Homo sapiens: one gene and its partners. The protein of the gene in region 2 purifies or fractionates together with the protein of the main gene of each other region. This does not show direct contact. Each region holds a gene or a part of one and is shown on either strand. Other genes may lie near its edges. The genes, in order: PGM1, GRHPR and SUCLA2.

What was found.
Region 1: the proteins of GRHPR (region 2) and PGM1 fractionate together in Homo sapiens (co-fractionation; 3 studies listed by BioGRID). This does not show direct contact.
Region 3: the proteins of GRHPR (region 2) and SUCLA2 fractionate together in Homo sapiens (co-fractionation; 2 studies listed by BioGRID). This does not show direct contact.

Annotation. Positions count from the first base shown.
Region 1 is NC_000001.11:63,652,325-63,659,432, forward strand, and holds part of PGM1 (phosphoglucomutase-1), read left to right. Parts: intron 1-2,007; coding exon 2,008-2,142; intron 2,143-7,108. UniProt on the Homo sapiens protein: Catalyzes the reversible isomerization of alpha-D-glucose 1-phosphate to alpha-D-glucose 6-phosphate. The mechanism proceeds via the intermediate compound alpha-D-glucose 1,6-bisphosphate.
Region 2 is NC_000009.12:37,425,608-37,432,715, reverse strand, and holds part of GRHPR (glyoxylate reductase/hydroxypyruvate reductase), read right to left. Parts: intron 6,795-7,108; coding exon 6,722-6,794; intron 6,179-6,721; coding exon 6,062-6,178; intron 4,233-6,061; coding exon 4,144-4,232; exon of another isoform or gene 3,875-4,143; coding exon of another isoform or gene 3,784-3,874; intron 2,985-3,783; coding exon 2,880-2,984; intron 2,206-2,879; coding exon 2,070-2,205; intron 709-2,069; coding exon 578-708; intron 1-577. UniProt on the Homo sapiens protein: Enzyme with hydroxy-pyruvate reductase, glyoxylate reductase and D-glycerate dehydrogenase enzymatic activities. Reduces hydroxypyruvate to D-glycerate, glyoxylate to glycolate, oxidizes D-glycerate to hydroxypyruvate.
Region 3 is NC_000013.11:47,991,198-47,998,305, reverse strand, and holds part of SUCLA2 (succinate--CoA ligase [ADP-forming] subunit beta, mitochondrial precursor), read left to right. Parts: intron 1-1,282; coding exon 1,283-1,463; intron 1,464-7,108. UniProt on the Homo sapiens protein: ATP-specific succinyl-CoA synthetase functions in the citric acid cycle (TCA), coupling the hydrolysis of succinyl-CoA to the synthesis of ATP and thus represents the only step of substrate-level phosphorylation in the TCA.

The DNA of each region.
Region 1 (7,108 bases), on a different chromosome or scaffold from region 2:
AGGCATTCCCAGACTTAGAAACGTTGACCATCGTCATTCGCAGCACATGAGTGGCACCCCACCTAACACAGCAGTACCTGGCAAGACGCCACAGTTTAGGACCTGGAGCATCTCTAGATGTGGACAGAATTGTTAGTGCTTCCCTTACTGTGTGCCGGGTACCCTAGGCTGCAGGCTGGGTCAGGCTTTCTCCTGGCTTCTCATGAACACTTACGCACCAGGGTTCTCTCACCTCTGCTTCTGTTGCCTGTTGTCACAGAGTAAACTCATCTCTCACAATTCATAATAGAATAAAGAGCAGGATGAAGATTCTGTTACAACCTCCCAGTTTACTTTTTTCCAATTGACCCAGATTTTTGGCCTGGTCCTTGTCAAGGCATCTCATAGGGTTTGGAAGGGCCGGGCCGTGGGATTTACTGGAGGCTTCCCTCTGGGGAGCAGGCAGTGAATGGATGGATGGGCCACAGCAACCCTCAGTGCCTGGAGTCTCCCCTCCTCAACTTCTAGCACAAGTGGTTTCTCATCCTTGTGCCTGTTTGCCATTTGTGAGAACTTGGGGTCCAGTTTGGATGATTGTAAATTATGCCTGAGATAATTAGAAGAGAGACCTGTGGTTGAGGAAGAAAGGGGTGTAGAAAAGGAGTGGAGCTGAGGGATGGCAGAGTGGGACAGAAGTTTGTGTCATTAAGCCTTCAGAGACAGAAGGGAAGTCAAGGAAAAGTAAATCCCAGCTCTGCAGTGCCTCTGGCATCTGCCAGGAGGGAGAAGAGGTGTAAAGGTGTGTATAGGAGACAGTGGCCTAAGCTCGAGAGCTGCCCTCTGTGCTGTAAAGAAAGCAGCTGCCCCACTTTCTGTAATCAGAAAATCCAAGCATTTTGATGTGAGACCAGATAGGAGGGAAAAATATGATCCAACATATATAGATAGAACATCTGCAATCTAGTGAAAAGAATTTTAGAGGCTTCAAGTTGAAGCTGTGAAGAAAGGAGACCAACCCTGGTGTGTTCCTAGAAAGCAAGAAATGGTCAGTGAAAATGGACCGTATCCTTCCCATAGTGACTAACTGTGGCATATCCTCTGTGTATTTCATCTACTGTCTTCACTAATCAGTGCTAATGAATGGCACCATTAAACACCAGATGGGGATTGGTGACGAACAGCAGGTGAAGAGCAGCATCTTTTTGGTCAGTCTTTGGTGTTATGCAAGGTTCTCCTTTTTACAGAGGATGGATAGACTCATAAAGACTGAAGAGTCCTCAGGCAACTTCTGTCCCAGCCTTCTTCCCTCAGGTTGGGAAATATCTACCCCAGAGTTCCCACACATTTTTCCCCAAGTGAGAAGATAATTGATGTCCAGAGATACCGCTGGGGAGGAAAAAGAGAGGGCAGCAGAGAGAAGGATGGGCTTGGCACTTCACACGGACCTCGCTTTGGGTCCATCAGGGATTGGCAGGAGATTGGCCACTGGCTCCTGCTTGTTAGGTTGGGAATAGCCAGTCTCTGCCATTTGGGACCTCTGACTTCCTGTTCTCTTTTGAGGACCTTTGCTAGTGGTTTGTAAGAGTCCTTCCCCTCATCTGCCTGAAACCTCTTCAGCTCTGGTTTCAGCCCCTTTGGTCCATGTTTCCCTCTTGATCTGGGGGCTGAATTTTTGCATCTAGCAGCTTTATGTGCTTCATTATTAAGCTTCAAACTGGAATGGTTAGTCCATAAATCACAGGGAAGTGGGGAGAGGAGGGAAGCCCTCACATCACCCAGCATCACTGAGGTCAGGTCTCCCCTGACCCTGGAAATGCTTCTCCCACCGTAGCTAAGCCCCCATCAGCTGGATGCAGAGAGGGTGACGGAAGGCAGGCTCACAAGGTGCAGCTGCTGCCATTTATCAAGGATTTAACCCTCCAATGAACAAGTATGGATGAAATTACATCCCCAAATAGACCCCTCATAATTTGCCAGCCTTCAGTCTCCCAGCATTTGGGGAAAAAAATCTCTGCTTATCTTTTCCAGGGCTTGCGCCTCATTTTCACAGATGGTTCTCGAATCGTCTTCCGACTGAGCGGCACTGGGAGTGCCGGGGCCACCATTCGGCTGTACATCGATAGCTATGAGAAGGACGTTGCCAAGATTAACCAGGACCCCCAGGTAACGCCCAGCCCTGTGCCCTGGTTAGTTCTTTCTGTTCAAGGGAATGATAGTTTCCCATTGAGCCTGTGTTTCAATGCCCATTTCTCAAATGACTCAACAAGGTACCAGCTGTGCTTACTTTCTTCCATGTTTCTTTCTCCATGTCAACATTATAGATAATAATTATAATAATAAAAATAGGGAGGCTGAGGTGGGAGGATCACCTGAGCCCAGGAGGTCAAGCCTGCAGTGAGCCAAGATCACACCACTGCACTTCAGCCTGAGCAAGAGTGAGACCTTATATCAAAAATTAATTAATTAATTAATTAAAAATAAAAAATTTTCTGAGCATTTATGGTTTGCCAGGCTGTGTTGTAAGCCCATTATGAAAATATACTCATTTAATTCTCAAATAACTTAGACTGTTATTCTCCCTGCTACAGATAAGGAAACTGAGGCACAGAAAAGTTAAGCAACAGTTAATAGGTTTACATGCCTAGTAAGGATAATGAATCTCTCTTTTTTTTTTTTTTTTTTTGAGACAGGGTCTCACTCTGTTGCCCAGGCTGGAGTGCAATGGCACAATCTCAGCTCACTGCAACATCCACCTTCTGGGCTCAAGCAATCCTCCTACCTCAGCTACCTGAGTAGCTCGGATTACAGGCACGTGCCACCATGCTCTGCTCATTTCCTTTTTTTTTTTTTTCTTTTTGTAGGGAGGAGGTCTTAGTACATTGCCTAGGCTGGTCTTGAATTCCTAGCCTCAAGTAATCCTCCTACCTCAGCCTCCCAAAGTGCTGGGATTATATGTGTGAGCCACTGCACCCAACCCAGGATAATTGGTCTTTAAATCAGCCCCTCATCTGGTGTTCTGCTCTGTCTGCAGCATTTTGTTGCTTTGTTTGGTCTGATCACCTGCTTGGGCAGAACACACCACTGGGTCTTAGATTTGGTGGGGGCAGGGAGAGGCAGTTTCATGTGTCTTCACAGAACAGTCTGCAGACCTGCAGCTTGGTAAGCTGGGTTCCTCAGCCATTCCCCCAAAAGTCTTCAGAAGTATATCAGAGTAAGGAGGGACTCTGGGAGCAAAGGGTGGGACAGTGAACTTGAAGGACAACCCCCAAAAATGGAGGAGCCAAGGGGAAGCAGTGAAGGACAGGACAGTTTCTTTAAGTGTTTTTCACAATCCTTATCTCAACCAGAGCTCCATAGCTTAAAAAAAAGTTGGGGAAGTGTTGTGGTATATTAGCCCCTTCTTGGTGATTCACAGCATACAATGCAATGCACCATAAAGGCTCCAAGATTTCGGACATGGTGGCCTGCACCTGTGGTCCCAGCTACTCAGGAAGCTGAGGCAGGAAGATCACTTGAGCGTAGGAGTTCTGGGCTATAGTGTGCTATGCCTGTCGGGTGTCTGCACTAAGTTTGGCATCAATATGGTACCTCCCGAGAGGGGAACCACCAGGTTGCATAAGGAGGGGTGAACCGGCCCAAGTTGGAAACAGAGCAGGTCAAAACTCCCATGCCGATGAGTAGTGGGATTGCACCTGTGAATACCCACTGCGCTTCAGCCTGGTGACATAGCAAGACCCCATCTCTAAAAAAAGAAAAGGAAAGAAAAAAAGAGGGTGCTGAGAAGACTTGCAGTAAAGGTGCCTGTTTACATAGCATTTGCTGAAGGACATTTCTCCAAAGAAAACATACAAATGGCCAACAGGCGTATGAAAAGGTGGTCCACATCACTAATCATCAGGGAAATGAAAATCAAAACCACAATGAGCTGTCACCTCACACCTGTTAGGATGGCTGTTCTCAAAAAGACAAAAGATAACAAGTGTTGGGAAGGATGTGGAGAAAAGGGAACCATCAGACACTATTGGTGGGAATATAAATTGGTATAGCTATTTTGGAATAACCAAAATATGGAGGTTCCTCAAAAAGTTAAAAATATTTTAGTACTAATATACGATCCAGTAATCCCTCTTCTGGGTATATATTCAGAGGAACTGAAATAAATATGTCAAAGAGATATCTGTTCTCTCTTGTTCATTCAATATTATTCACAATAGTCAAGATATGGAACCAGCCTAAGTGCCCATCTACAGATGAATGAAGACATTGTGGTGTGTGTGTGTGTGTGTGTGTGTGTGTGTGTGTGTATACCACAATGGAAAATTATTCTGCCTTAAAACAACAAAAACCAAAATCTTGCCAATCTTGCCATTTGCAATAACATGGATGAACCTGGAGGACATTATGCTAAGTGAAATAAGCCAGACACAGAAAGGCAAATACTGCATGATTTCACTTGTATGTGGGATCTAAAAAAAGTGAATCTCATAGAAACAGAGCAGAAAGGGGCTTACTAGGGGGTAGTGAATGGGGAAAATGGAGAGATATTGGTCCAAAGGGTACAAAATTTCAGTTATGTAGGATGTAGCAGTTCTAGAGATGGAATGTACAACATGATGGCTATAATGAATAACACTTGAAATGTACTAGGAGAATAGATCTTAATTGTTCTCACTATCACCACCACAACAAAAAAGGTAAGTAGGTGACAAGATTGATAATGTTAGTTGGCTTGACTCTAGTAATCAGTTCACTATGTATTTGTATATCAAGACATCATATTATATACCTTAAACATAAACAATTTTTATTAAAAAATTGAAAGTAAAATAAAATAAATAGCATTTGCCATGCTTATTTTTCCACAAAGGCTTTTTTCTTTTAACACCTAATTAAAATCCTGTGAAACTCATTTGGAAACCCCTGGCATAGTGGTTTTGAGCAAAGTTAAAGAGATCTTGTTTTAAATTCTATTCCTGCCACTTAATAACTGTGTGTCCCTGGGTAAGTTGTTACAATTTTATGAATCTTGGTTTCCTTGTCTGTCAAATGGCAGAGTAATACCTACTTCATCTAGTTGTTACCGGGGTTTAAGGAGATAATAAATGTAAAATGTTTAAACACTGTGGCTGGCATATAGGATTAACTTTTCAGAATAAGCAGCACTCTTAGTTTTTTTAGTCTAACTTTAAGTGTAACATAATGCTATTATAACCATTTTTAAGTATATAGTTTAGTAATGTTGTACATATTCATATTGTTGTCCAACGTATCTCTAAAACTTTTTTCCCCCAAAACTAAAACTCTGTACCCATTGAACAGCACCTCCCTGCTTCTCCCTTTTCACAATCCCTGGTACCACCTTTCTCCTTCCTGTGTCTGTGAATTTGACCATTGTAGGTACCTCACATGAGTAGTATAGTTGCTTTTATTACAGAAAGTGGGAGATGAGAGAATGCTTCACTTTTACATTTTTTCCAGTGGCCAGGCCCCAGTTTCAGTCATCACCAGTACCTTGTTGTGTTGTAGGCATCCCTAAAACTTCAACCAAAGGCAATGGGGTCTGCATTATAGACACTTAATAGCACAAGAGAAAAGGAAGAAGGAAATTGTGTTTGTCTTTTGATCATCAAGATAAATGCCTGGCACGTGGTAGATTCAAAGAGTGAATGAAATTTGTTTCCTCTGAACCATAGTCCTCAGCAGGTGGAATGGCAGTGGATGGTGTGAGGTTCCCACAATGCCCAGGTGTATCACCATCTAGCCGGGGAGCTGCCTTTCCTTATTCTGCAGCTGCTAGGCCATCAGCACTTTGTGGGGACTGCCCAAGCCCTAAGGGGAAATGTGGTAGTTTCAGCAGGTGGAGTTGATTCTCCTTTTCCAGGTATAATGGATCGGTGGAGATTTAGATAAGAAAAAGTAGCATTCAGCAGTAGAAAATGTACTACTCCTGGCTCTGCTATTGAGTCATTTAGTCAAATCACTTCATCTCTTTGGGTATCAGTTTTCTCATCTGTAAAATGGGCAGTTCAACCAGATTAGTAGTTTTTTTTTTTTTTTAATATTGAAAGCATTTATTAAGCAACAGAATTCTCTCTTTTTTTTTTTTTTCTTTAAGCGAGAAGTAGATGTGGGGAGGGGTTGTTGCATTTTTAAAGATTCCTGTATTAGGCCGGGTGCGGTGGCTCACGCCTGTAATCCCAACACTTTGGGAGGCCAAGGCAGGCAGATCACCTGAGGTCGGGAGTTCAAGACCAGCCTGACCAACATGGAGAAACCCCATCTCTACTAAAAATACAAAATTAGCCGGGCGTGGTGGCGCATGCCTGTAATCCCAGTCACTAGAGAGGCTGAGGCAGGAGAATTGCTTGAACCTGGGAGCCAGAGATTGTGGTGAGCCAAGATCGCAGCATTGCACTCCAGCCTGGGCAACAAGAGTGAAACTCCATCTCAAAAAAAAAAAAAAAAGATTCCTGTATTAGTCTGTTTTCACACTGCTGATAAAGACATACCTGAGACTGGGCAATTTACAAAAGAAAGAGGTTTAATTGGACTTACACTTCACGTGGCTGGGGAAGCCTCACAATCATGGTGGAAGGCAAGAAAGAGCAAGTCATGTCTTACATGAATGGCAGCAGGCAAAAGAGAGAAATTGTGCAGGGAAACTCCTGTTTTTAAAACCATTAGATCTCATGAGACCCATTCACTATCATGAGAACAGCACAGAAAAGACCCACCCCCATGATTCAATCATCTCCCACCGGGTCCCTCCCACAACACTTGGGAATTATGGGAGCTACAAGATGAGATTTGAGTGGGGACACAGAGCCAAACCACATCAGTCCCATTGGGAACAGTGTGGGAAAGAAATTGGAAGATGCACAAGTGGATGTGGAGGCACTCACTGCTCCAGGTAAGAGACAGGACATTGACTTAGCAAGACTTAACAGCAGGAGAGTGGAGAGAAAAGGGGGCCATGGAGAGAGATTTAGCGGGGAAAAGTCATTGAGGCCTGCTCATGGACTGGGCATGGGGAAAATGCAGAGGAAGATGTCAGGAGCAACTCCTAGTTGTTCACTTTACATGAAAGACTGTAGTGTTGATCCACTGAAATAGAAACTGCTGGAACTAG
Region 2 (7,108 bases):
ACATGTAGTCAGCCCACTTTGTTGTTGTTGTTGTTTTGGAGATGGAGTCTCACTCTGCCACCCAGGCTGGAGTGCAGTGGCACAATCTCGGCCTACTGCAACCTGTGCCTCCTGGGTTCAAGCGATTCTTCTGCCTCAGCCTCCCAAACAGCTGGGACTATAGGCATGCACCACCATACCTGGCTAATTTTTGTATTTTTAGTAGAGATGGGGTTTCACCATATCGGCCAGGTTGGTCTCGAACCCCTGACCTCGTGATCCACCCACCTCAGCCTCCCAAAGTGCTGGGATTACAGGCATGAGCCACCACGCCTGGCCCACTCTTTTTTTTTAAACAAATCCACTCACACCTACATTCTGTTCCTTTAGGGACAGAGACCCAGCAGAGCATGCGCAAGAGGACTGCTCCTGTCATACACCCATGTCACTGACAACATAAACATTTACGATCCCTGGTGTGTCCCTTTGGGTTCAACACCTGCTCACACTAGCTCCACACCCGGCCCCTTGGGACCCCCTCAAAAACACTGGTCCTGCAGGGCAGCAGGGAGTTTGCATCAGAAAGTGCAGTTCTTACCACAGTTCTTCAGGGTCAGGAGAGGGTGGTTTGTAGGCAGTGGTTCTGGGCTCGTCACATCCAGTCCAGCAGCTGCAATCTTACCACTGGCCAAGGCCTGGTACAGGTCGTCCTGGTTTACGACGTCGCCCCTGGGAATGACAGTGGTGACATGGGTACCCCGAAGATCCCTCCGCCCAGGCCACCTTTGAGGCAGAACAACCTACAGAATGAATTTTTCCACTCACTTGGCACTGACTTTTAAAGCAGTAAGTCTTAGGTATACTTACAGTATGTCTGTAAGTCTTATATACTCAGAGAACTCCAGCCCTGCCTCCTTCTAGCTGTGTGACCTTGGGCAAGTGTCTCAAATTCTCTGTGCCTCGAATTATCTGTGTCTCAAATTATCTACTCTGTGAGATAAGGAGAATACCACCTAACTCCCAGGCATGTTGGGAGGATTAAAGCTTTCTTACATGCTCTACTGCATGAACAGGGCCCAGAAGGGCATCTGTGTTAGGCCCCATCCAAGTGTTTCTGATCTGGTTGACCCCCAGACCCCCACTGAGAAGCACCACAGTGTGCTATCAGGTACCTGTCTAAACCAGGGCAGAGGAACGAGCACACCCCTAACCACAGCCATCAAAGGGAGCGGCGACTGAAGGCAAGAAGTCATCTTCTAGAGACTGTATATTGTGCACTAAGTAATACTTGTGCACTAATGAGTAATACACGGTCCTGGGCTGTCCTGGGTACATGCAGGCACCCAGTACACGGCAGCTGTGACTGCTGCCAGCCAGCAGTGCGAGCCCTGTGGTCCTGCATGTTTCACTCTTCCATTCCCAGGTCACCTGTTTTGTAGCTAAATGTTGGTAATTACAGGTACCTTTGGGGTGGACGAGTCCTCAGGATGACCTCACCCAATCCCCCTTCCCCTAAACTGATGTAAACAGGCTCAAGGGGCACCAGCTAGGAAGGGCTTGGAGTGGCAGAGAAGGAAGGTCTGACCTCCATACATGCCCAGTGGCCTGAAGGCACCCCTAGGGACAGTGTGAGGAGCTACGACCACGTGAGTTTTAGGGTCTGTCCGCCCAGGAGCATAAGGTTCAAAGTATCACTGAACCACAGCCAGACAAAGCCAGGCTCAGCAGTGTGGGAGGCGGCCTCCAGAGGGCCCTTCAGATCCTCAAGTCCAGCCCTTTGTGGTGGAGGATAATGGGCCTGCAGAGGCTCCCTGGGAACACTCCCTGAAGCCACGCTGCTGTGTGCCAGGCCCCGCCGGGTGGGGGCCACTGCTGAGAAGCAGACAGGCCAGGCCCACTCTGACGGCTCTTCTTCCCTGTACGGAGGTCTCGTGTATTCCCACGAATTTCTGAGTTGGTTGTTTGGTTTATGGAAACCAGCAAGCTCAGCCTGGGGTCTCACCAACAACCCACGGGGAAGAAAATCTCCAGATGGCAGCAGTGGGGATGGCTCCTCTCCAGGCTTGCTGGGTAAGGTGGCCCTAGGATACCTGCTGATGTTGATGAACACAGCTGTTTCCTTCATCTTCTGGAAGAAGTCCTTGTTGCAGAGTCCCTCGGTTGCAGGTGTTAAGGAGCAGGCCACGACGATGAAATCAGATTGGGCAGCCAGCTCAGGGGTAGACACTGAGGGAGGGCAGGACTCCATCAGGCACTGAGTCCCAGGCTAGGGACAACCAGATGGCGGGAGACCAGCCCCTTGCTCCCGACTCCCTAACAGAAACTCCCAAGATGCTTCCTGAAGGCCGAGTCTCTACCTGGACAACTCTCATGAGTGCACAAAGTCAAATCACACACAGTGGGATCTGGACCACTCTGGCTTTAACTACCTTCAGGGCCCAAAGTGCCCAGGGGCGTGGGGAATGCTTGAGATCCAGCCTGCCATCTGCTCACCAGGCTGTGGACCCGCCAGGTGCTGGATCCGCCTGGACTAAGGGGCGCACACAAAGGCTAGGGTAGTGCTTGCCAGTTTATGAAGGAAAAGACAGTGAAAGTGCCCAGCCCTTCCTCACACCCACCACCATCCCCGCTGCTCCGCCCACAATGGGGAATGGTAACAAAGGACTCTGAAAGACGGGAGCCCTGGACTGCTCTGCTGGCTCGGAGAGGACCTGGGTAAGTCCCTGTGCTCCCTGAGTGGGCCAGTGTCCAGGGGCAGGTAGATTAAACATCTACCAGACAGCAGCCCCTGGACATGCCTGGAGCTCCTGCCCTCTGCCTGAAAATGCCACCATTGAGAGAAAATACAGCCTCTCAACTGGGCACAGATAGGCTCCTGTGGAAATCAAGGCTTCACTTACCAAACTCTGCCTGGAATTCTGCTGCTTCCTCAGGCCTGGGCTGGCGCCCTGTGTACAGAAATCTCTGGACACCGAATGGTTTCAGACGCCGAGCAATGGCCTGGCCTAGAGCAAGGAGAGTCCATGTCTCGTTCCCAGTCCCGCAAAGGGTAGGGACACCACCCAGCATTTCTGGAACAGCGGCCCTCAGGGCAGACCCTTTTCATCAGCACAGCCCGAGTTGCCTGCTCCTGTCTCCTCCAAAGCGGGTGGGGGGCTGGCTGCCCCACTGTAACTAGCCCCCAGCCAGCCCACACTGCCCCAGGGATCTGGAGACAGCACCTCAGCTCCCCTGAGGCTGTGACTGGCTGATGCTGTCCTCACATGGTCCAAGCCATCTGGAAAGCCACTCAGGTTTTTCCTAACCTCTGAGAACTGGAGAGGTTTTCACAAGGGAGACACCTGGTCAAGCAGTCCCCTCCTTTGTCCTGGACCCTCTGCTTCTGTGAATGCAGTCTCAGACCCCATTTGACTTTTTGGTGGCACTGCCAAACTGCCAGCTCACCCCAAACTTACAATTTTCATGTAAGCTGCTGCTGAGACAGATTTGTACAGTTGGATTTTCAGGCTCAGAACGTGCCCCAAAGCTGTTGGGTTCCTCCAAGCAACTCTCTAGTGAGAGGCAGGGCTGTTCGTTGGCTAGACAGGTTCTCCACACTCTCCACCCTCACCCGCACCCCTGCACCAGGCAGGATGACAGAGAACCACCAATAGATAGCTGCTTGGCTAGGCTCACGCCCTTCTGCCAGGCTTCTCCAAATAAGGGCCACTGGAAGAAAAGTGTCTCTGCCTCATCTGCAGAACTGCAGATCAACTCTGCCCACTGAGCCCTCCGGCCCGAGTTAGGGCTTTGTGAGTCACATACCTTCCAGAACGCAAGCCGGAGTAGGTGTCGGGGGAATGGGCTCTCTCACGGTAACCACTCCTAACGGCCCCAACACATTTGTAGTCTTCATCTGTTCTTTATGGAGCCGGAATCATGAAGCCCCCTGACCCTTAGGCAACTTGCTTTTATCACCTGGTGAGTTCTTAAGGAATCCTGCTTTGGTTTATTTATGTATTTGCCTGTGTTTTACAAAGCTGTATCCCTCATTAGAGATATCTCTACTGCAAGCAAAGTGCCCTGACAGCATGTGGGTCTTCTCAGCCTTCAGACACGTGGTGCCAGGGATGCAAACCACGCTGTGAGAGCCGGGGCGGGCAAGCGGGCCGGTGGGAGCCTCACCTATGCGCCCCAGCCCGATGATGCCGACAGTGCTCTGCGTGAGTCCATAGCCACACAGCCAGAGGGGCTTCCACGAGGTCCAGCCACCACTGAGGGGAGAGAGAGGGGCAGGTGAGAGGCCCAGCCTTGGACCAAGATGGGGGCCGCTGAGAACCCGGCACCTCTGACTGTGGTCCAAGGTATAAACCCACCCTCCAGGTCACGGACTGAGAGTGGGATGAGGCACTGCCACTCGGCACTGCAGATGAGCAGCAGAAACGACTCCACCTTTAAAGCCACCAGAGACATAGAACTTGAGGGCGGGAAGGGGCCTTACTGGCTCTCATCCTGTTTTGCAGATGGGAAAACAAACCAGAAAGGGTGACTTGCCTGAGGTCACACAACCAGGGAAGAGTTGAGAGCAACAGGCTGCAAACTCAGGATTTATGATTCCAAAACAAGTTCTCTTGGCACTTTAGGGCAGCAACAAAGAGTACAGCCACAGGGCCCACCCTGCTGCCCTGGGCAAGAGATGGAGCCTGCCCTGAGCCACCTCCAGTAGATGTGATGACTCCCCAGACAGGACAGTGAGCAGGACTCAGCACTGTCTACTCTGCTCCATGCCCCGTGCCGGGGCCCACGCTGCTGGCCACGCACTGTGAGAGCCTGCGTTTGCACGCCTCCCACCTTGACTCGGGCCAGTCCCTCCATCTGCACATGGAATGCTTCCCCCAACTTTTTTTTTTTTTTTTTTTGGAGACAGGGTCTTGCTGTGTCGCCCAGACTGGAGTACAGTGACATGATCTCGGTTCACTGCAGCCTCTGCCTCCTGGGTTCAAGCAATCCTCCCACCTCAGCCTCCCGAGTAGTTGGGACTACAGGCGTGTAACACCACGCCTGCCTAATTTTTGTATTTTTTGTAGAGACAGACTTTTGCCACATTGCCCAAGCTGTTCTCCAACTCCTGAGGCTCAAACAATCTGCCCGCCTCGGCCTCCCAAAGTGCTGGGATTACAGGTGTGAGCCACCGTGCCCGGCCAACTCTAACTCTTGATATACAGGCCGAAATCCCTGATCTGAAACCTTCAGGCTAGATTTTAAAACTGTTTGGCCTTTAGAAAGGCAGCATGGCGCACGTGGTAGATTCCACACATCACCCTCTGCAGTGTCTGGGCAGCAGCCTGTTTTAAAAGTGTTACATCTGCAGCAAAACTTAGGAAAGTCACATTAAATGGGAGAAATAAAAGCCTTAAATAGTCTCCTGTTAGTATGAAAGAACTTTCAGCTGTCCGAGCTTTTTAGATTTTGGGATCTAAGGGATGGTGGACCTGCAGCTTTCAGGACTCAAGCGGACGCCCACCTGCTACTTATTCTGTGAAGCCCTCCCTGATCCACACTCTCCCTGCCAGCCCTCACCCACCAGCAGAACTTGTTTGTCCTCCCTCATCCTCTTCTCTCACCACTTCCCTTTCTGCCCTTATTGCAGCTCTGCTTTGTGCTTTATTTTAGCTGAGTCCTCACTCAATGGGGCACACCTGGGGTCAGGGACTATGCGTGGGCTGGACTGGCACAGTGATCAGGATCCAGTGCTGAGCAGAGCCAACGTTCCTGCCAGGCGTTCACTTATTTTTCTTTTTTTTTTTGAGACAGAGTCTCACACCGTCACCTGGGCTGGAGTGCAATGGTGTGATCTCAGCTCACTGCAACCTCTGTCTCCTGGGTTCACATGATTCTCCTGCCTCAGCCTCCCAAGTAGCTGGGATTACAGGGACCCACCACCACACCCAGCTAATTTTTTTTGTATTTTTACTAGAGACGGGGTTTCACTATGTTGGCCAGACTGGTCTCGAACTCCTAACCTCATGATCCGCTCACTTTGGCCTCCCAAAGTGCTGGGATTACAGCCGTGAGCCACCGCACCTGGTCTGCGTTCACTTACTTCTTCACTTCCTCGATGGCCTCCGGCAACCGGCGGCAGGTGGTAAGTAGCAGGGAGACTGCGAGTTCGGCGGTGGTATCTGTCAGGACATCTGGGGTGTAGCCAACTCGGATCCCACTACGAATCAGACATCTGGTGGTAACATCAGCCTCAACCATATTTACCAATGTCTACTGCTGGGACATTTCCATGGAGTTACTTTGCTCCCTCTTTGATCTGCCTGCCAGGAAGCTCAGAACTATAAATGAGCACTCAAAAACGGGCAGTCCTCATTCCTATTTAGATTATCTCCCACTTTGGAAGGATATGAAGATGGAAGATCAGGGTTCAGGGACTGAACAAGTAACTTAACCTTTCTGAATTTCCTCATCTGAAACAGAAAGAATAACACCTGCCTTTGCTACTTCAAGGTATTGTTGTGGGGATCAAAAAAGATAATGAATGTGAAAGGGTGCCACCTACACAGAAGTTACCCACTGTTTCTGACTGCTGGGGTTTATTGTAACTGACCTGTGCACATGTGGACAGATTCTATCATCAGCCACCTCACATTCTCCCTGAATGGCCGAGGGATATGCAGTAAAAACAAATCAACAGCTCTTCTTTCTCTCATAGCCACCCCTCTCTCTAGGCCCCCTCCAGATCCCAAGCTGCAGTTACCGCTTCTTGATTTCATCCAAAGCCAAGTGGTCGATGCCCACAGACATGGTGCTGATGACTTTGAGATTGGCCCCTGTTGTGCAGAAAGTGCATTGTTAGTATCTTTCCTCGAGGAACTCAAAGCCACAGCACTGGGGACTATCATGGGGACACCGCTTATTATTGTTTTCTTAGAATAAGAGGCTGACATCTCTGTTCTTCAGTTAAAACTCTGAATAATCCCCTTTGACAGCCTCAGACACTGCAGTTCAGGGAGGTTAAGTGGCCTGGCTCAGTCACAGGCAGAGCCGGGTTCACCTCAGGGCCTCTGCCACCAAGGCCCCGCTCTTACCCACTGGACTGTCCACCCAGCGAGGCCTCCGGTCTTCTTTAGCCACGCTGGGGCCT
Region 3 (7,108 bases), on a different chromosome or scaffold from region 2:
TTTTTTTTTAACTTATTTATTTGTTTTTTTAGACAGGGTCTTGCTCTGTTGACCAAGCTGGAGGACAGTGGTGAAATCACAGCTCACTGCAGTCTCAAACTCCTGAGCTGAAGGGATCCTCCTGCCTCAGTCTCAGGAGTAGCTGGGATTATAGGTGTAAGCCACTGTGCCCAGCTTGGTTGCTGGCTTTTAATATTGAAGTGACACTAAATCAAGGAATTGAGCTACCTAGGTCAAATGTTACCAAGGATTTTAGCTTGCTAAATGGATCAGAAATAAGTTGCTATTATATATGATTGATTTGTAAGACTAGTAGTTCTCATAACTGTAGGGTTCTTAAGAATCAACTGAGTGACTTGTTATGAATGCAGATTTCCTTGGGCCCAGTCCAGAGATTCTAATAGTGCAGTTGAGAATGGGTCTCAGGAATCTGCAGATTACAAGCACCCAGTTAATTTTGAGGCAAAAGCTTATGAACCTACTTTAAGAAACAGATTGTTTCTATGACCTCTTTAAATTTAATTCTTAGGACACTGTGTGTTTCATATGAACCATGTTTCAGTATACTGCATTCTGTATTGAGATTATGGAAATGCGTGGATAACATTTAAATGTGTGATTCCATTGACCAGTCATTGGGTGCAGGCTGACAGTGGGAAGGAGGTGTGACTTTGGGCAAGTAGGCTCCAGTAAGAGGACTTGGCTGAGAGCTGTCAGCAACCAGCACTCCCAGCAGCAGCAGTGGGGGCTATGAATGCCTTGGTCCTGAATGGGGAGTGCCAGGGAGATCTGGGCAGCATACTGCAACATCCACTACAGATGAAGCCATGGTTTTGAATATCGAGTGTATGAAAGAGTAATGGTATCAAATCATTTTATTATTACATATCTAGTGCCAGGTGACTTGTTAGGTGTGGAGGAATGGTAGAGAGAAGAAAATTGGGAAGGATTTTTGGTTTGGTGGAAAAGATGAGATTGGTTTTAGATCCGCTGAATTTGGCATTGAGGTAGAACTGCCCTGTAGATCATTGGAGATATGATAGTAAAGCTGAAATCTGAAATAAGGAATAGAGATGATGAGGAAATAATTAAAATGACAGTGGTAACAGTGATATTTAGCTGATAGGCTAGCTTTTAGTTTTATGCTGTAATTCAGGTACTCTGAATATTGTACTTTGCTAATGTAATGTAACAGTTTTGTTATAGTTATGAAGAACCAAGTAGTTAGCAAGAGTGACTGCCAAATCACTGTCATATATAAATATGTCCCCAATCTTTCTAGGTTCTGGGAAGTTCTGGATTGTTTAATAACCATGGACTCCAAGTACAGCAGCAACAGCAAAGGAATCTCTCACTACATGAATACATGAGTATGGAATTATTGCAAGAAGCTGGTGTCTCCGTTCCCAAAGGATATGTGGCAAAGTCACCAGATGAAGCTTATGCAATTGCCAAAAAATTAGGTACTAAATTAAGAAAAGCTTTTGCCACCTTGACATGAGAGCTCTGAGAAGATTTGAAGTTTGTTTTTGGTTTGATAACAACTTTTAGCTTTTTTTTAAAAAAAATACATTTTCTTTGCTTAAAATAGAAGGTAGAACTTTATTATTATTGAAATTCTAAAATTATTATTATTATTATTATTATGAGCACCCATAATGCCAGTGACGTGGGAGTCACTTACATTGGCATTAGGAAGCTGAAGTCCTGTTTTTAGTTGGAATATAATTATGGGGAAGGGAATTCTACTACTACCACTCTAACTACTCTGGAGCTTAAAGGATGGCAGTTGTGATGATTCTTCAGGGAAATGGTGAAGGAAAATCTTAGCTGTTTATGTGCTTATAAGGAGAGGTCCGTGCTTCCCCCTCCATTTTTTTGTCATGAAAAATATGGAACCAAAGGGGAACAAAAAGTAGAGTGCTAGAATGTAAACTCCTTGAGAGCAGAGTTTCTTTTTCTTTTCTTTTTTTTTTTTTTTTGAGACGGAGTTTCATTCTTATTGCCCAGGTTGGAGTGCAATGGTGCAATCCTGGCTCACTGCAACCTCCGCTTCCCGGGTTCAAGGGATTCTCCTGCCTCAGCCTCCCGAGTACCTGGTATTACAAGCACCACCACCATGTCCGGCTAATTTTTTTGTATTTTTAGTAGAGACGGGTTTTCACTATGTTGGCCAGGCTGGTCTTGAACTCCTGACCTCGTGATCTGCCCGCCTCCGCCTCCCAAAGTGCTGGGATTACAGGTGTGAGCCACCACATACAGCCCGAGTTTCTTTTTCTTATTTGTTCACTGATATATCCCAAAATCTTAGAAGAATGCCTGACACTTAGGTAATCAATAAATACTAAATGAATAAATATTAAATGAATTTAATAGTTGCCCATGTTTATTAGCAGATTCCTTTATTGATAACAGAAGCCTTAATAGCTTTTGTCAATTTGAATTAATCTCTTAATCAAAAAATAATTTTTGATTTCAGAAAATAAGCTTACATTTTTAAAGATTTAGCATGAAAACCATGAGCTGATGTACTAGCTATACACTGCAGTTTCTTTTTAGCAGTATTTTAAATCCCACCAATTTTACGTAGATTAGCATAAATAATCTCTCTTCTATGTACATTTAATTAATAGGCTTTAAATATGATTTGGTGAATACTTTGCTTTTATATTTTTTAAGAAAGATGAGCATTTTCAAAGTGATTGAAATTTTAAAAGTATTCATCTTGTGTAGTACTTATTTGTATCTAGAATGGATTTTTCTTTCAAAATTAAGGATATATACAAGTTCAGAAAACTGTCATATAAGCTATGTTTTTGAATGAGATGGCCATGATTTCCTTGACTTGGAAGCATGATTTTTCATTTATAGTTTTGTTGTTTTTATTGTTGTTAATCAGAAAGAATTATTTTAAATCAGATTACAAGCAAACTTTTTATTAAGCAAAAGCTTTGTATAAGTTCATACTAATTGTGGTGAAATTTTTGTTAATGGTGACCTATAATTGGAACTTCTGCATGGTTAATGTTAATGGGACCTGATTTATATATAATTACGTCGGTAAAAATGGTTTTCCTCTTGTTTCCAGATTTTAAAATTCCAAAAAAAAATTTTTTTTAGAGATAGGGTCACTATGTTGCCCAGGCTAGTCTGAAACTCCTGGGCTCAAGTGATCCTCCTACTTAGGCCTCTGAGTAGCTGGAACTACAGGCACATGCCACTGTGTCTATTTTTTGAGTATTATAATTGGTTTCTTTAACTAGTTTTCCGTATATTTTCTCATTTAGTGAAATTCCATTGTTTTGTCAGAAAAAATAATTTGCATAGAAACTTTTTCATAAAATGAATAGGATTAATTCAGATGCCAATCTGTTTTGATTATGCCTTATAAAAACTTAATGATTCTTAGGTACAGAAGAAAGAAATAATATGTGCAGGATAAACTGTAACTATGAGTATTTCTGGCAAGTTCTCTGGGACCAGAACTCACAAGTAATAAGAAGCAGGTAGGCAGCTCTGATTTTGAGCCCCTTGGAACAGATACCTTGTTCATTTAGAAAGTGTGTTTTTTGTCAAAGAATATTGCAAATGATGATTATAGTGTGGGAGGGAGACTAATAATTAACAAGGAAATTTAAATCTAGAGGAGCAGAAATGCTAGTTTTTAAAAGATAAATTTAGAAACGTCTATGAAAATATGGAGGACAATTTCGTGGTTTTTTTTTTTTTTTTTTTTTTGAGACGGAGTCTCACTCTGTCGCCCAGGCTGGAGTGCAGTGGCGCGATCTCGGCTCACTGCAACCTCCGTCTCCCAGGTTCAAGCAATTCTCCTGCCTCAGCCTCCTGAGTAGCTGGGATTACAGGTGCCCGCCACCATGCCCAGCTAATTTTTGTATTTTTAGTAGAGACGGGGTTTCACCATGTTGGTCAGGCTGGTCTCGAACCCCTGACCTTGTGATCCACCCGCCTAGGCCTCCCAAAGTGCTGGGATTACAGGCGTGAGCCACCGCACCCAGCCCAATTTTGTGTTTTTAGTGAGTCATTGATAACAAAAGATAACGATTATGGGATCTAGTTGCACAAGGTGTAGAATGAGGGACCTTAGAAATACACTTGGTTTTGTTCATGTAGCTAGCAATTCCCAATGCTGAGTTTTCATTACTTCAGGGTGATTTTTGCTTTTTGACTTTCTGCAAAATTCATAAAATGCTAATTTTCATTTCATAAAAACTCTTTTTTTTTTTTTTGAGACGGAGTTTCGTTCTTGTTGCCCAGGCTGGAGTGCAATGGCGCCATCTCAGCTCACCGCAACCTCCGCCTCCTGGGTTCAAGCAACCTCTGCCTCCTGGGTTCAAGCAGTTCTCCTGCCTCAGCCTCCTGAGTAGCTGGGATTACAGGCATGTGCCACCACCCCGGCTAATTTTGTATTTTTAGTAGAGACAGGGTTTCTCCATGTTGATCAGGCTGGTCTTAAACTCCCGACCTCAGGTGATCCACCTGCCTCACCCTCCCAAAGTGCTGGGATTACAATAGGCGTGAGCCACCAGGCCTGGCCTTCATAAAAACTCTTAACTCAGCGCTTTGCTCAACAAGTGACATAATAGAACATAAATGCTTTACAGGTGTGCCAAACTATTGTTTCTTCCCAGTCCTGTGGTGGCAGGAGAAGTTGAGTTAGCATGGGGTTTGGGGCCACTGAGCCTCTTTACCCAGTATTTCCTACCATGTCCATCATTTTCTGTTTGTGTGATGATGTGAAAAAAGTTGAGAGGCATTGTCCTGTAGGCAAGTTTTACCTGCTGTGAATAATTGAGGTTAGGAATGGAGGAATGGTTAGAAAGAAATCTAATTCTAATATTTTAAAAGACTATATGAGTCCCCAAAATGAAGGTTGGTGAGCTTGAAGATCATGAAGTTTCTGGAATAGATTATCAAAGGGATGGTTATTAGCACAGATAAATGTAGTAGATATTATTTGGGGTCAGTTCTGAGAGCAAATTATCTCTAACAGTTCATAGTTCAAGGAAATATGATTTTAGTAAGGGTTTGGCAGAATGTTTGTTGTTTTGTTTCTGAGACAGTGTCTTGTTCTGTCACCCAGGCTGGAGTGCAGTGGTGTGATCATGGCTCATTGCAGCTTCGACCTCCTGGGCTCAAGCCACTTCTCCCGTCTCAGCCTGCTGAGTAGCTGGGACTATAGGTGTGCTCCACCATGCCTGGCTAATTTTTGTATTTTTTCTTGAGATGGGGTTTCACCATGTTGCCCAGGCTGGTCTCAAACTCCGGGGCTCAAGCCTTCCACCCACCCTTGGCTTCCCAAAGTGCTGGGACTACAGGCGTGAGCCACTGCGCCTGGGCACAGATTTGGCAGAATTTTTATAATTTCCCTATTGACTATAGAAAGATAGTTTGGCTTCTAGTATATTTAAGGTGGAATCCCTATCTGGTTGAATAGATACATGTAAAGGGTGCTGATTAATGAATGTCAGCCCGGAGGGAGATTTCTAATGGCATATAATAGGACTTTACCTTCTTTCTTTCTTTTAAATATTTATTAGTTAGATACCTGTATACAAGGAATGCTTAAAATGTTTGTGAGTGACTAAAGGTAGCTGGGATAGTGATTGTGTTTTAGAGACAGTCTTGGGATCCAAAAAAGATCTTGTCTGACTAGAGCAGTGCCAAATGTAATAAGACTGCAGGTTCTATGAGGGCAGGAGAGGTCTCACTCACTGTTGTATCTACAACGCTAGCACAGTGTCTGGTATGTAGATGAACCTGTTGAGTGAATTAATGGAATTGAATAAAATGTTTGTTTCGACCAGTTGTCCTCAGACTTCTCTTCTAATCTTTCTTCCTTTCTTGATAGTTGATGAGACTGTATTTCATGAAAAATTTTTTTTTTTTTTTTTTTTTTGCTTTCGTTGTGAAGGGCTTTTTTTTTTTAGAAGGAACTTTCGAAGAATCATCTTTTGCCCTTAAAGACTTTATATTCCTAAAGAAAGGAAATTGACACTTTGCGGGGAAGAGAAGAACCTTCTGTCTTGCCAAGTGTTTTTGAAAAAATAGAGCTTCGTTACTCTTAATAGGTCAATGTGTTAAGTTCCCAGTTTAATGAATAGGAATGATTGAATTTAGCTCAGTAAAGCACAGTGTAACTATGACCATTTTTTACATTACATTTGCACTGTTTGCCTTGTAGTTCTCTTCTTCGGATATAAACAAATATTTAAAGTGCTGGAAAATCAGGACTGGACAGGTAAACAGAAACAAGTGGAATAAATAGTGGCTGCTCCCTTCCGTTTGGGCACAAACTCTCTAATTTGCCATGGTTCAGAGACAACCTGTAGTATTCTCAATAAGAACGTTATTGTTGGTTTTAAGGAAATTTCTGAGTTGTTTCTATTTGTTACCTAATATTAGTTGTGATACATTTGTGAATAGTAGAGACAGGGTAATTGAAAAGGGTTTGTCTTATCTAAACAAGATACTTTTTCTAATCAGCTCTAGTTGTAGTACTGTGCACCCAGTTTTTCCCATTGGGAGTTTTCGTAAGAGCAGTGAAGAAATCTAGATTTATAAGAATTCTGTTCATATTTTTAAATGTTCCTTTTTTTCAACATTCAGCAAAATATTATGTGCTAGGAACTCTCCCAGACGCTTGTTAACATCTATGAATACAACAAAGATTCTGCCCTCCTGGGCCTCTTTTCTGATGGGGAAGCAAAACAACAAATGATATATGTAAGAGAATTACATATGTACGAAGATGATGAATTCTATGGCGGAAAGAAGTGTAGTAGGTAAGGGGGATTGGTCACAGGTGGGCAGGTTAGTAGGGTAAGCTTCATGGGCAACATGAGATTTAAAGAGAAACTTGAAGGATCGGGGGCTTTTCCCACATGGACACCTGGTGAAGAGTATTCTAGGCAGAGGGTGCATTAGAGCCAAGTCCTGAAGGCAGGAACATGCCCAGGAATAGTGAGGGGATTAGTGCAGTTGGAACAGAGTGAGCAACCAGGAGGGCCTAGGAGATAAAAAGTGTAGAGGGTATTATAAGGTCTTCTAGGCCATTGTAAGCACTTTGGCATTTAACTGAGTGAGACTG